Linked DNA regions of Homo sapiens. The protein of the gene in region 2 purifies or fractionates together with the protein of the main gene of each other region. This does not show direct contact. Each region holds a gene or a part of one and is shown on either strand. Other genes may lie near its edges.

Region 1 (7,028 bases), on a different chromosome or scaffold from region 2:
AGTGGGTTTTACACACTCAGAATTGATATTTTTGGCTTGTGGTAAATGGGACTTTAATGCTTAACCTGCTGTAGAAAAATCCGCCTTAGAAAGTGGCCCTTATTCGTATATTGTATTCGATGTTTGAGCCCCCTGATATCTTATCATTTTAACAAAGCTTACCTTGAAGTGCAGGAAAAATTGTATGTGTTCTTGTCATTATTTGAATAACAACAAAAATCAGTATTAGCTTTAAAGCCTGTAGGTTTTAAGCGTATCCTTGCCTGGACTAGCATATCTCCTCTTTCTCAACCAAAAAGATCAGAAAGGTGCTATCCCAGTACCAAAAGTACTGGGAGGACTTTCAGCAGAGTGTGACGCAGAAGGGAAGCTTTTCCGCTCTGGGGAGCAGATGCGGAGAGGACAAGCACTTGGAACACAGCATCCCTGGGAGCTCTGGTGCTGCAGTTGTGACCCCGAGGCGGCCCTGCTGTGCCCTCCTGGGAGTGCTGGGCGACACTGGTTGCAGAGGGGCATTGGTGCTCCCCTCCACCTGACAGGTGCTCCACCTGGACTCGTGGCTGCAGCTTAATTTTGTGTCAGATCCTTTCCGGTAATGTATAGGTTATTTCAACTATGAGGCAAAGTGCAAATGGGTAGTTCAGTGTGGGTTTATGGTATTTGCCCTTTTTGATATAAACATTAAATATTTCATACCTCACCTATAGTACTTTTTTTAAGACTTAAATCTGAAATTTAAGATACAGATGTTTGTAAGATATGAATCTTGGATATTGGGAGAAAGAAGCCTCCTGGAAAATATACAGTATTATCTGGTGGAACCATTTTATTCCTTTTCTTATTGTGAGAAATACACATTTATGAAGTATTACCATTTAGGAGTTGTTTTCATCAGGCAGGGTACATTGATATAAATGTTGATTTTTAACATCCGTAAGTTGAAGTCTGACTAAATTGTTTTTCTCTGTGATTTCATAAGTCACAATTTATATTTTATATGACCTTAAATATTTAATTTGAAGTACTGGTATATTTAAAGGTGCTAAAACTACACGCATGCATCTCTACTAGTGGTTCTTAACCCAGGCTCATTTTGCCCCATCCAGAAGACATTTGGGAGTGTTGAGATATTGCTGGTTGTCACCACTGGGTGCGTGTACATGCACTGCTGACTGGGTAGAAGCCGGGGATGCTGCTCAGCATCCTTCAGTGCATAGAACAGCTCCCCACGACAAAGACAGGATGCTGATCGATACCCATAAATGTCTTTTTTTTTGAGACAAGAGTCTCGCTGTGTCACCCAGGCTGGAGTGCAGTGGCATAATCTTGGCTCACTGCAGCCTCCACCTTCTGGGTTCAAACAGTTCTTCTGCCTCAGCCTCCCGAGTAGCTGGAATTACAGGCATGCACCACCGTGCCCAACTAATTTTTGTATTTTTAGTAGAGATGGGGTTTCACTATGTTGGCCAGGCTGGTCTCGAACTCCTGACCTCAAGTGATCCACCCACCTTGGCCTCCCAAAGTGCTGAGATTACAGCGGGGAGCCACTGCGCCTGGCCCCATAAATGTCTCTTCTAGACAAGTGTATTGTTTTAAAACCATAATTTAGCCCTCCTGGAGGGATTTCAAGGATGGGTGCATTGGTCCCCTGCAGGTAGCTCAGCAAGCTTCATTGTGTCTCTCCTTGGCCCACAGTTTATAGTGATTCTGTGCCGGGTCTTGTGTGTTGGTCTGGAAGAAGGTGAAAAGATTTGGGGTTGGGCTGAGCGCGGTGGCTCACACCTGTAATCCTAGCACTTTGGGAGGCCGAGGTGGGCAGATCACAAGGTCAGGAGATCGAGACCACCCTGGCCAACATGGTGAAACCCCGTCTCTGCTAAAAATACAAAAATTAGCTGGGCGTGGTGGCATGCGCCTGTAGTCCCAGCTACTCAGGAGGCTGACGCAGGAGAATTGCTTGGACCAGGGGGTCGTAGGTTGCAGTGAGCCGAGATTGTACCACTGCACTCCAGCCTGGCGACAGAGTGAGACTCTGTCTCAAAAAAAAAAAAAAAAAAGAATTTGGGTTGATGGGGATTCATAGGATCTTTTTATCTTGGGGAATCCCAGCATCTGCTCTATCAGCTAAGGCAGTTACATCTACTCATAAAGAAAATTCCTTCAAAAGTTTTGTTGAGTAAAAAGTAAAACTGTAAGAGTTAAAAGACAAAGCTCTTTTGCTGTGAAACGCTCAGTGAGCTTTGGACTGCAGTCAGTGGAACTTGTGACACTGGTTTTTCTCTGCTGCTGAGATAATTGGAAGGATAAAAATATTGAGTGCCTTGTTTGAAAAAATACTGTTTATATTTGCAAAGATCCTTTCATTCTAGGGAGAATGTATGCTTTATTCATTGAGCTCTATAGAACATACCAGCATTTCTCTCATAGCCGAGCTGTTTTAAATATTAAGGTAAAATATATAACACAGGAAGCTCTTCAAGAAAGGCCAATTGAAGTGTAGCTGTTTAGAGACAACTCAAGATGATGAAAATACATTAAATGCCACTTTGAACCCAATTTAAGAGGTGTGCCATATTTAGAATGCCATTTCTAGGTTATTTAATTAATACCCAGTTGAGTGTTGGAATACAGTTGGGAGTAATATGATGAATCTGTCAGACTTCTGAGCACCCCAGCGGATTACAGGTGGGAGCTTGCTTTCCAGTTTGTGAGGAGAGAAAAGACCTAATAATCCTAAAGGGAAATTGAAATGAAGTGATAGTTTATTAAGTAATAATGCATTTTTTTACTTGATAAAACTTTCTGGAAAATTAAATGGTCTTCCAAAATTTCAGATACATTTCAAAAATAAACCTGATAGAAATAGCATATGTTGTCCTGGTGGGGTGGCTCATGCCTGTAATCCCAGCACTTTGGGAGGCTGAGGCGGGCAGATCACTTGAGGTAAGGAGTTGGAGACCAGCCTGGCCAACATGGTGAAACCCTGTCTCTACTAAGAATACAAAAATTAGCAGGGCAGGGTGGCAGGTGCCTGTAATCCCAGATACTCCGGAGGCTGAGGCAGGAGAATCGCTTGAACCCAGGAGGTGGAGGTTGCAGTGAGCAGGATCGTGCCACTGCACTCCAGCTTGGGTGACAGAGCTAGACTCTGTCTCAAATAAATAAATAAATAGCATGTGTTACTATATGTGTTAATTACATGTGTTCAGGCTGGGCATGGTGGTTCACGCCTGTAATCCCAGCACTTTGAGAGGCTGCAGCTGGCAGATCACTTGAGGTCAGGAGTTCTAGACCAGCATGGCCAACATGATGAAACCCTATCTCTACTGAAAATACAAAAATTAGCCAGGTGTGGTAGTAGACACCTATAATCCCAGCTGCTCAGGAGGCTGAGGCAGGAGAATTGCTTGAACCTGGGAGGCAGAGGTTGCAGTGAGCTGAGATCACGCCACTGCACTCCAGCCTGGGTGACAGAGTCAGAGTTCGTCTCAAAAAAGAAAAAAAAAATTGCATGTGTTAATGTAATTTTGAACATCATATTTGCTTACAGAAATCCATTGGGTAAAAATCTATAGCATTCGTAATAACTTTGGAGAGGGTTTTGGTTAATGGGCTATTATGTGTACTAACAATATCTGTTTACCTTTCTGAATTATTCATTTTTCTTGTCTTTCAGTTTTAGAAAGAGCGTTTTCGCTACGTAAAGCACATTCGATAAAGGATATGGAAAATACTTTGCAGCTGGTGAGAAATATCATACCTCCTCTGTCTTCCACAAAGCACAAAGGGCAAGATGGAAGAATAGGCGTAGTTGGAGGCTGTCAGGAGTAAGTAGCTGATGTGCAGTGTTGGTGTTTAAAAAGTCAGTTGCTGGCTGGCTGCTTACCTGACTGTCATTCACGCTGTCTAGTTTGACCTCAGTAATCATTTCCAAATGCAGCCTGATAGGACACTCAGTATTTTTCAGTGATCCACTTTTTGATTAACTAGGAAATAACTCTGAGGAGCCCTGACTGAATTACTCCCTCATGTGTGTCAGTGTTAAGTTTTGTCGTAGTGGGGAAATGAGCCTGTTTTTTCCACTTTCTGCTTTTCTGTATTTAACTGGACTTCATACCACAAGCATGTTTTTTGTATTTAGGATAGAAACACTCAGCAACCTCTTGGTTTACTTTGTCAATTTAAAGATGTTACTGAAAGTCATTTATGAAATTTGACAAATCCCTAGCTTGCTTCTGTTCTGTTTTGCTGCTGTGTTTGGTACGTAGCTGTTTGTAAGTTGTCCTTGGGTGTGAAGGATACCTTCTGCCTCTGACGGAAAGCCTGCCGTGGCTCCTCTGTTTCTGCTTGCTTTCTGTTTGCATGGATGTGGTATCTCTCTTTGCCCATCCCTCCATTTGCAGCTGTTGATCGTGCCATAGGGTGTGTTAGAGTTGTTACTGGATCAGGTATGTGTGCATTTTACATGCTGGTGACGCTGCCGAATTGTCCCCCCATTGCGTTAGTGTGTGTTGCCTCCCAAGAGCACCTGTTCCCTGCAGCCCTTGGAGGACAACCTTTGCTAGTGAAGTCGACAAGCTTTCTTGTTGTTTTAATGCATTTCTCTTATTAGTGAGGCTTGTTTTCACATGATGGAAGAGTGTGTGCATGTATGTTGCCTGTTCTGTACTGTCTTTTGCATTTACAACGCTATTGACACCGCTTTGCAGGAGAAGGCCATGTAAGGTGATGGGTATCAGCATTTGCCCAGGTCTCTCTTTCTTGGGTTAGCAAAACATTTCACTGCTCGGAATGGACATAAAGGTTGCATTTGCCCATCTGACGGAGGGCAGGGCTCTTCCTTTCTGTGCCTGAAGTGCCCTTAGACCTGGAGAGCCAGGGATTCCAGAACAGCCAGGCGGAAGCAGCTGGGTGGTGGGTGCCGTTTCTTGTTTGTCCCAGGTGGCCCCCATCTGGCCTCTGCTGACTGTGACTCTTGGAGGACGGGGTCTGCCCACTCTGGGACCCTGTCCATGCCCGACTGCTCCGAACATGTGGTTGTCACTTTCTTCTCTCCAGGCAGAAGCCTGCGGTCAGCTCCTTACCTTGAACATTCACATTGCAGGGAGACTGCAGGCATTACTGCCAGAGATTCACTCTCCTGAAATGCATGAAGGTTTTATGTAAAAGATCGACATTTCTGGCTGGGCGCGGTGGCTCATGCCCGTCATCTTAGCATTTTGAGAGGCCGAGGCGGGCGGATCACCTGAGGTTGGGAGTTTGAGACCAGCCTGACCAACATGCAGAAACCCTGTCCCTACTAAAACTACAAAATTAGCCGGGTGTGGTGGCGCATGCCTGTAATCCCAGCTACTCAGGAGGCTGAGGCAGGAGAATCGCTTGAACCCAGGAGGCGGAGGTTGCAATGAGCCAAGATCGTGCCATTGCACTCCAGCCTGGGCAACAAGAGTGAAACTCTGTCTCAAAAAAAAAAAAAAAAAAGACATTTCTAGTCGAACCTGGTTCATGTTCATTGAACATTTGCTGAGCATCTTTTAGGTGTTGGGTTTGTGCTGTGTGCTTCATGTCTCTGTTATTTATTGATAAACCATGTCTATATTATTTATGTCTATTTTTTATTGATAACCTATTTATTGATCAAGGTATGCTTACCTTATTCTCAGAAGTTTTTGACTCTAAATACCTTCTTTTTAGGTACACTGGAGCCCCATATTTTGCAGCAATCTCAGCTCTCAAAGTGGTATGTTTACTTAAAATTTCTTTATTGGGATTTTTCTGGTAGAGAGTTTGATTATTTAAATATGATTAAAGCAAATGTTTTCTGATAGAAATCTAAATAATATCTTAGGGTAATCATAGCTAATAGAAACACCGTTAAGTCTATCCTGACATCTGTGCATAAACAAGATCACTTCAGTTGAAGCTCATTTTTTTTTGAGACAGAGTTTCGCTCTTTTTGCCCAGGCTGGAGTGCAATGGCGGGATCTCGGCTCACAGCAACCTCCGCCGCCTGGGTTCAAGCGATTCTCCTGCCTCAGCCTCCCGAGTAGCTGGGATTACAGGCACCTGCCACCACGCCTGGCTAATTTTGTTTGTATTTTTAGTAGAGTCAGGTTTTCTCTCTGTTGGTCAGGCTGGTCTCGAACTCCTGACCTCACGTGATCCATGCGCCTCGGCCTCCCGAAGTGCTGGGATTACAGGCGTGAGCCACTGCACCTGGCCTCAATTGAAGCCCATTTTTAAAACCTAAAGCGTGATTTGTATTGTACTCCACCAAAGTGCACCTGGGATGCCTTTGTAGGTCGCAGCTGAAGCCGCTGATCCTGCAGTTTCCCATGAGCTGAGCAAGTGCTAACGGCCGGCCTCTTCCTGTGACCCTTCCTCCTGGAGGGTGACCAGACCGAGCTGGGCCGTGCTGGTGTGTGTGGCTCTGACCCTGCCTCTGCAGTGGCGGCAAAAGTCTTTCTTTTTAGGTATTGTGCTCTGCGCCCTGGCCCTTTGCTAAGCCACCTGGCTGGGTGTAATCCGAGCTAGTACGTTTCTCATGCACGTCACCAGGGCTGAGTAATGAGCGCTGGACGCCTGTGTCTGGCGGGTGGGCAGCGATGCCGGAGCGATCCCTGAGTCGGCCTCTTGTGCTCCTTCATCAGGGCGCAGACTTGTCCCACGTGTTCTGTGCCAGTGCGGCCGCACCTGTGATTAAGGCCTACAGCCCGGAGCTGATCGTCCACCCAGTTCTGTGAGTCGCTCTGCGCCGGCTTCTCGTAGGTTCTCTTTCCCTCCTGCATCATTTGGGGTTTTGGCACTGACACCGAAAGCGTCCTGATGGATTTTCCATCCTCAGAGTTTCTCAGCAGGTGCTGTAGAGGAAGTAGGGAAATGAAGGAGCCCGTTCTTCTGGGGTCAGAATAAGACAGAGACGGCGGGGTGGAGAGGTGGGTGGGGGAGCTTGGGCCTGTTGGAAATGGCCGGGGCCCAGCTCCAGAGGCAGGGAGGCCCTGTGGGCTGTGTGTGACAGGTTTGCAGAA
Region 2 (7,028 bases):
AGCCTGTCTGCCCTTATCTGTGATCATGAGCATGCATGCCCTTTCCTTGTTTCTTTGCATTCTTTGCACAGCTCTTATTTTGAAAGAGGGATTAAAATAAGAGGACACAGAGAAGAGGAGAGTTATGGAGAGGAAGCATCTCAGAAGTGGTTGGCACCTGCTCAGAAATGGTCCAGAAGGCGATCAAACACTCTAGTCTTCTGAACTTTCAGCATGCACGCCCACGCACGCACAGCCTCTTGTTTAAGGCCCTGGCTTGGCCGTAATTCTCCTGCCATGTGTACTCACAGCTGTTCTGCAGACCCCTGGGCACACTGAGGCTCACGTTACACTAAAGAGAACTGGGTCTTTGGTGAGCCTTTCACTCCAGAAACAGCAAAATCAATATTTTTTTTCAACATTAGAAAGCCATTCGCCAATGTGAAAATTAAAAACAGGACAGCAAGGCAGAACACACTAGCTGGCAGAAGGCAACATCTTTGAATGTCAGTCTGTAAGTTTTAGTCTTGCATTATTATGATTCATAATACAGAACTAAAACTCATGAAATAAGTGGCCTTCCATACAAAAAAGTGTTCTAAACTCAAGTTGAAAATTTATGAGCTCAAAAATTCCCATTTCACACATCTGCAAGAACCCCACCACAGCCAAAGCACCAGGTGACATAAACTCTAAAACCTGTCCTGATAGTTCCGCCTGCTCTCTCACCCCACTCCATGACAATCTCTCACCACTGGAGAAAACCTCAGGTCAACTACTCAAGCCTGGAGCAGGAAAGGGCCTGGGAGTTCTCAGATAGTTCCAGGGCCAAAAAGAGTTGCCTGGCATGGCCCCATATCACCAAGGAAAAGACGGAAAGGAGCCAGACATGGACACGAAGTCCAGCTCTGCTACTAACTCAGGATGAGACCCTGGGCAGTTATTTAGCCTCCAGAAGCCTCCATTTCCTCATCTGTCAGTGAGGCTGGTGATAGCACTGACTTCATAGGGGTCTTATGAAGGTTTTATGAGATGGTGCCTGTAAGGCACTCAACACACAGCCTGGTTAAAATATATATATATATATATATATATATATATATATATAGAGAGAGAGAGAGAGAGAGAGAGATCACTTAAGAATGGAACAAAAAAAGAACTCTACTAACATAATTATCTAAGCCACTACCTTTGTATAAGGTCTCCGAATTTACAAGCTCTTTCACCTAAGTGTTTCCCATCTCAATAAACACCACTGCCCAACCATCACCAAAAATCTAAGCGTCACCCACAATTGTCTGCTTTTGTTCACAGCCTGCATCGAATCCTTCAATAGGCCCTCTACCTCCTAAACCTTCCCCCATTCTCCCTCTCCATCTCTTGAATTCAAGACAGCATCGTCTGTCACCTGGCGTACAGAAATAAACCTACTTGAGTCACCTTCTTCTATTCTTGCTCCCTATGGTCTCTTCTCCATCAAGAAAGACTCCCTCTAACTGAGCCCTCCACCGAGACATCTTTTGAAATGCTCCTAAGATGTATTCTCTTTCATAAAAGCCTCCAGAGGCTTTCGAGCACACTTAAGGAAAGCCCAAACTCACTGGCACTTGGGTCCCCCATTGACTCCTCATCACTTGCACCTCACCTAGCAAGCTCCTCCCGTTCCTCAAGTCCACCAAGTTCATGCTTCTATGCACCCTTTGCCCCATCTGTTCCCCCCACCTGGAAAGCCCTTGCCTCAGTCTTCACACAGCAGTTCCCTCCTCATCATTCAAAGGTCACCTCCAAGGTCATGTCCTCCGGCTTTTCAATCTAGCCATCCTGTCACTTGCTATCACATTGTTCTATCTTTTTTTTAATTTTCTCTATAACATTTTCCACTGACTGATATTCCTCTTTCTTTCTTTCAGAGATGGGGTCTCACTAATTTGCCCAGGCTGGCCTCCAACTCCAGGGCTCAAGCCTCAGCCTCCCATGTGGCTGGAACTAAAGGCACGTGTCACCACACCCAGTTTCATAATTTTCTCATTGTATTAATTGCCTTATTGTCTTTCTTCCCATACCTGGTTCACTGCTCTATTTCCAAAACCTAACTCAGTACCTCATGTGCAACAAATATTTGGTGAATTTGTTCATTAACCTTTTAAGGCCAAGAGGAAAGTGAAAGGGCCACATGCTTGTTTGATGACTTTCCTTTTGGAAAAAGGAAAAAAGTGTCCCTGCCCACTTAAAGAATGAGGGTGAGGGCTAGAATCTGGCTCCCTGAAATCTAGGCCCTAACACTGATTTAGGAGGGAAATCTAATAGCTGTGTGTGGGACCCCCAGGTTTCCCCTCACCTCCCCACCGCCGCTTTCGGTGTCCTAACCAAAAATTACACAATCCCCTGACCACTCTGTGACCCAGCCACCTGCAGGTTTGTTTTGTTTTGTTTTTTTTGAGACAGAAGTTCCCTCTGTCACCGAGGCTGGAGTGCAATGGTGCAATCTCAGCTCACTGCAGCCTCCGCCTCCTGGGCTCAAGCAATTCTCATGCCTCAGCCTCCCGAGTAACTGAGATTACAGGCATGAGCCACCATGCCCGGCTAATTCCAGCTGCTGGTTTTTCCCAGCAGGCTTAGGTCCAGACTGGACCCTTGAACATTCCCAGGCACTGATAAAGGTATCTAGGTTGATGCACAAAACACTGAAAGAAACTAGTACCGGCTCTGAGCCAAATTCCTTAAACCCGCATATAGTCTCCACACCCTAATGCCCTAAGTAGAACACCCCTTTTCTCTCACTGTCTTGAGGATACACTGCAGCACTTTCAACATAAGTTGCACTAATAAATGCTTTGGACTGACCGGCCGCCCTGGCATTTATTTAGTGCTTCTTTCTTTGGAATCCCAACTGGCCCCATCTCGGGATGGGATATTCCCTCATGGGAATTTCCCTGTTGCTGCTTTTGGGGCAACTCCAGCCATGAGTTTGATGGGATAAGACACTGTGGCAAAACTGCGGCCACTTTAAACACTCATCTTCACCCTGGGATATCCACTGATACACAGCCTGGTCACCTCAAGAGAAGTTTGACTTGCAACGTGTGACAGAAAAAAGAGATTCCCAGCCGGGCACAGTGGCTCTTGCCTGTAATCCCAGCACTTTGGGAGGCCAAGGCGGGTGGATCACTTGAGGTCAGGAGTTCGAGATCAGTGTGGCCAACAAGGTGAAACTCCGTCTCTACTAGAAATACAAAAATCAGCCGGGCGTGGTGGTGGGCACTTGTAATCCCAGCTACTAGGGAGGCTGAGGCAGGAGAATCACTTGAGCCCAGGAGGTGGAGGATGCAGTGAGCTGAGATCGTGCCAGCCTGGGCGACAGAGCAAGACTCCGTCTCAATTTTTAAAAAAGAGAAAAGGGACTCCCACTGACAATGGAAGCGTGGATTTATTTGCAAAGGAGCCTTGCTTAGAGGCAGGCAAGTCAGACCCACAGACCAGAAGATAGGCAACTGCTTAAGGTAAAGAGGAATTCATAGCCAGCGGAGCCATAGGAAGACCAATGTTCTCTGCCTGTGGGTCTTAAGAGAGGCCATTCAGCCTTCCAAGCCCCTTCCTGATTTCCTTGTAACAACGCTTAGAATACCACAGTTTTTGCAAGGAAAAAGAAAACAGGAAACCTAAGCTCCACTGTTTCACACCAAAACTTGAAAATAAACTTAAAATTTCTTCAAAATTGCATTTCGTACTTGGTAAACCTCAAGCAAACAGAATACTAAAAATACCACCTGTCTTCTCTTCCACTTCCCAAGGTACCATAATTATAACTTGACACAGGATGGAAAACTGTGACTTACCCGCTTCGATGCATTCTGGCTTCAGGCAGTACTCCTGTTTAGCTTGGAGACTTAAGAGACCTTGACTCACTGAAAAAACAGACCACAATAAATGGCTGAGTTGTAGCAGACCACCATCCGGTAAACCACCCTCGGAAACATACGCAAGATATTTGATATCAGTTCATCCTTCTCAGTGTTGACACGGTATTCCAAAACCCAGTTGGTTCAATGTCACGAAACCAGACTCTAGCTGCTAGCTAAATAACCTTGGTAAGACTCTTGGTTGCTTTGAAACTCAGTTCTCTCGTACGTAAGATAAGTGAGTATAACTAGACCAGAGCTCCTAAGAGTGTGGTCTCTAGAGCAGCAGCAGCTGCTGCTGCTGCACCTGGAAGCTTGTTAGAAAGCCACTCCAAGATCTTGACTCAGAAACCCTGGGGGTGGGGCCCAGCCATCTGCGGTTTAACAAGCCCCCCAGGTGATTCCGATACATGCTCAAATATGAGCACCACTGGGCGAGACACTCTCTAAAGTCGCTTCAGCCTCCAATTATCAGTGGTTTAAGTCTCATACTTTCACTCTATTGGTTTATAACTCCATGCCCATGTTCAAGATGGGAAAATTGAAACTTTTAAACTATGTCATTTGGAGCCAATCAGAGTGGAAATAGAAAGCTAGCATGTTTGGCTTTTAGAGTTCTGGATCTTATCTAAACCATCCATACAGATACGGACCAAAAAAGGGGTAGGGGTAAAGAATATACTGAACATATCTCAATCACCTATTGATAGCAACAGTCATTGTCCGCCTGCCCTGAACCCCACAAACTCTCCGCCCACCAGGCCCAGCTTAGCTACCAGACATTTGCAACTTTGTGGACCAAGCTTCCAGCTATTTCCTCCCTTCCCCCACTCCAAAAAAAAAAAAGTCTAAAATTGAAATAGCTTTTCACCAATGGCTTAATATCTCCATCTGCCTGGCAACATTATCTAAATAGGTGTCTGCAGAAGTACAGAAGGGTGCCCAATTTGTCAACCCCAGGTAGCACCTGGGCATTAGCAGATGTTAGTTTAAGATTTCAAAAGTATTTGTAGTAGCTGAGGAAATTCTGGGGAATTCATTCTTGCTGTGCTCTGTGAGCAGAAACAATGAATCATTTGGAGATGTGGCCATGGGGAGAGGGATGGTGGGAGGTGAATGGGGACCAAGGCCCTCTGTGGCAGAAAGCTCGGCAGTACCTATATTTCTGCTAGAGATGGAAGACCTGTAGATTACTACCCAGTGTGGCGAGTTTTTATTATTTATTAACCCACTCTCTAAATGGAGCCTGCTTTTCCTTTGTTCTTTTTCTCTGCTGCCATCCTCCAAACAGCCTCTTTGCATTGCATTGTGTTACATTAGAGATTCAAGAAAACTGCCGATGAAACATCTCAGTCCTATTTTTTTTTTTTTTTTCGAGACAAGAGTCTCACTCTGTCACCCAGGCTGGAGTGCAGTGGGGTGATCTTGGCTCACTGCAAGCTCTGCCTCCCGGGTTCACGCCATTCTCCTGCCTCAGCCTCCCGAGTAGCTGGGACTACAGGCACCCGCCACCACGCCCGGCTAATTTTTTTGTATTTTTTAGTGGAGATGGGGTTTCACCGTGTTAGCCAGGATGGTCTCGATCTCCTAACCTCATGATCCGCCCGCCTCGACCTCCCAAAGTGCTGGGATTACAGGTGTGAGCCACTGCGCCTGGCCCATCTCAGTCCTGTTTTTAAGAAAATAAGTTTCTTAGCAAAAAGGTGTGTTTTGATTTCTGTATAAAGCAAAAAAAAAAAAAAAGTTATGTAAAAAAATATATATGGGCAGCATAAAGATTAGTGTGCAATATTCCAATATGCCTGGGTGGCAGAACCTCAGGGGGAATTTTCCCCATCAGTCAATTTTTATATGTTGACCTAATGTTCTTTAGTGAGCATGTGTTCTTTTATATAATGCAAAAATAAGCTTTATTGTAAATAATATTTTTATAATTCTGGACAATACCTTCTTGATCCTAGCCTTATTTTAAAAAACAAAATAGCTAATAAAATCGTTAAAGACTTATTCCTTTCATGAGAGATAATTCTTGACCCAAAACCTCAAAGGAAGAAGTAAAATCAGGTATCTTTATCTAACGATGAGCAGAAGGAAGGTTTTAAATATAACTAATTAGGCCAGGCACGGTGGCTCAGGCCTGCAATCCCAGCACTTTGGGTGGCCGAGGTGGGCGGATCACCTGAGGTCAGGAGTTCGAGACCAGCCTGGCCAACATGGTGAAACCCCATCTCTACTAAAAATACAAATCTTAGCTGGGCGTGGTGGTGCACGCCTGTAATCCCAGCTACTCAGGAGGCTGAGGCAGGATAATTGCTTGAACCCAGGAGGCGGAGGTTGTAGCGAGCCAAGATCGCACCACTGCACTCCAGCCTGGGTGACAGAGTGAGACTCCGTCTCAAAAAAAAAAAAAAAAAAAAAAATATATATATATATATATATGTACGTGTGTGTGTGTGTGTGTGTGTGTGTGTGTGTATAATTAATTAATTGGGACACTGACAGACCCAACCCCTCAAGGAAGAGCATTATCTCCATGGATGGGGTTATTTTAAAATTCTCCAAATAAATGAGGATCAATAAGCCCAGATAATGTGAAGGTGTAAGTGAATGAAATAGAGACAATAAAGAAAATATTTTTAATATAAAAATTAAGATGTTACTTTTGAATGGTTAGGAGCTTTAAAAAATACATGTAAATAGCAGTTTGGTTTCTCATTGTAGATTTCTCTATAACCAGAGGAAATGCCCTTAGGATGCAGTGGAGTCATCCACAGATCAAGAGCATAAGAATGGCCAGAAAGCAGGGGTCAGCAAACTATGGCCTGTAGGTCAAATCCATTGCCTGTTTCTGTACAGCCCATGAGCTATGAATGGCTTTTACATTTTTTTCATGGTCAGGAAAAATAAAAAGGAAAATAATATTTCATGACATATGAAAAGTATATAACATTCCAATTTCAGTGTCTAGAAATCAGATTTTCTTGGCACACAGCCATGCCCATTTGTGTACATATTGTCTATGGATGCTTTTGTGCAACAACAGCAGAATTGAGTAGTTGCAAGAGGCCGTATGGCCCACAGAGCCAAATATATTCACTATCTATCTGGCTCTTGGCAGAAAAAGTTTGCCAGCCAGTGCATCTGAGAAAC

The links. Proteins that work in one complex are often made in the same cells at the same time.
Region 1: the proteins of PHEX (region 2) and NAXD purify together in Homo sapiens (affinity purification with mass spectrometry; 2 studies listed by BioGRID and IntAct, with this or other methods). This does not show direct contact.

The regions. Positions count from the first base shown.
Region 1 is NC_000013.11:110,618,540-110,625,567, forward strand, and holds part of NAXD (ATP-dependent (S)-NAD(P)H-hydrate dehydratase), read left to right. Parts: intron 1-3,676; coding exon 3,677-3,827; intron 3,828-5,694; coding exon 5,695-5,740; intron 5,741-6,650; coding exon 6,651-6,739; intron 6,740-7,028. UniProt on the Homo sapiens protein: Catalyzes the dehydration of the S-form of NAD(P)HX at the expense of ATP, which is converted to ADP.
Region 2 is NC_000023.11:22,035,325-22,042,352, reverse strand, and holds part of PHEX (phosphate-regulating neutral endopeptidase PHEX), read right to left. Parts: intron 4,199-7,028; exon of another isoform or gene 3,959-4,198; intron 3,885-3,958; coding exon 3,816-3,884; intron 1-3,815. UniProt on the Homo sapiens protein: Peptidase that cleaves SIBLING (small integrin-binding ligand, N-linked glycoprotein)-derived ASARM peptides, thus regulating their biological activity. Cleaves ASARM peptides between Ser and Glu or Asp residues.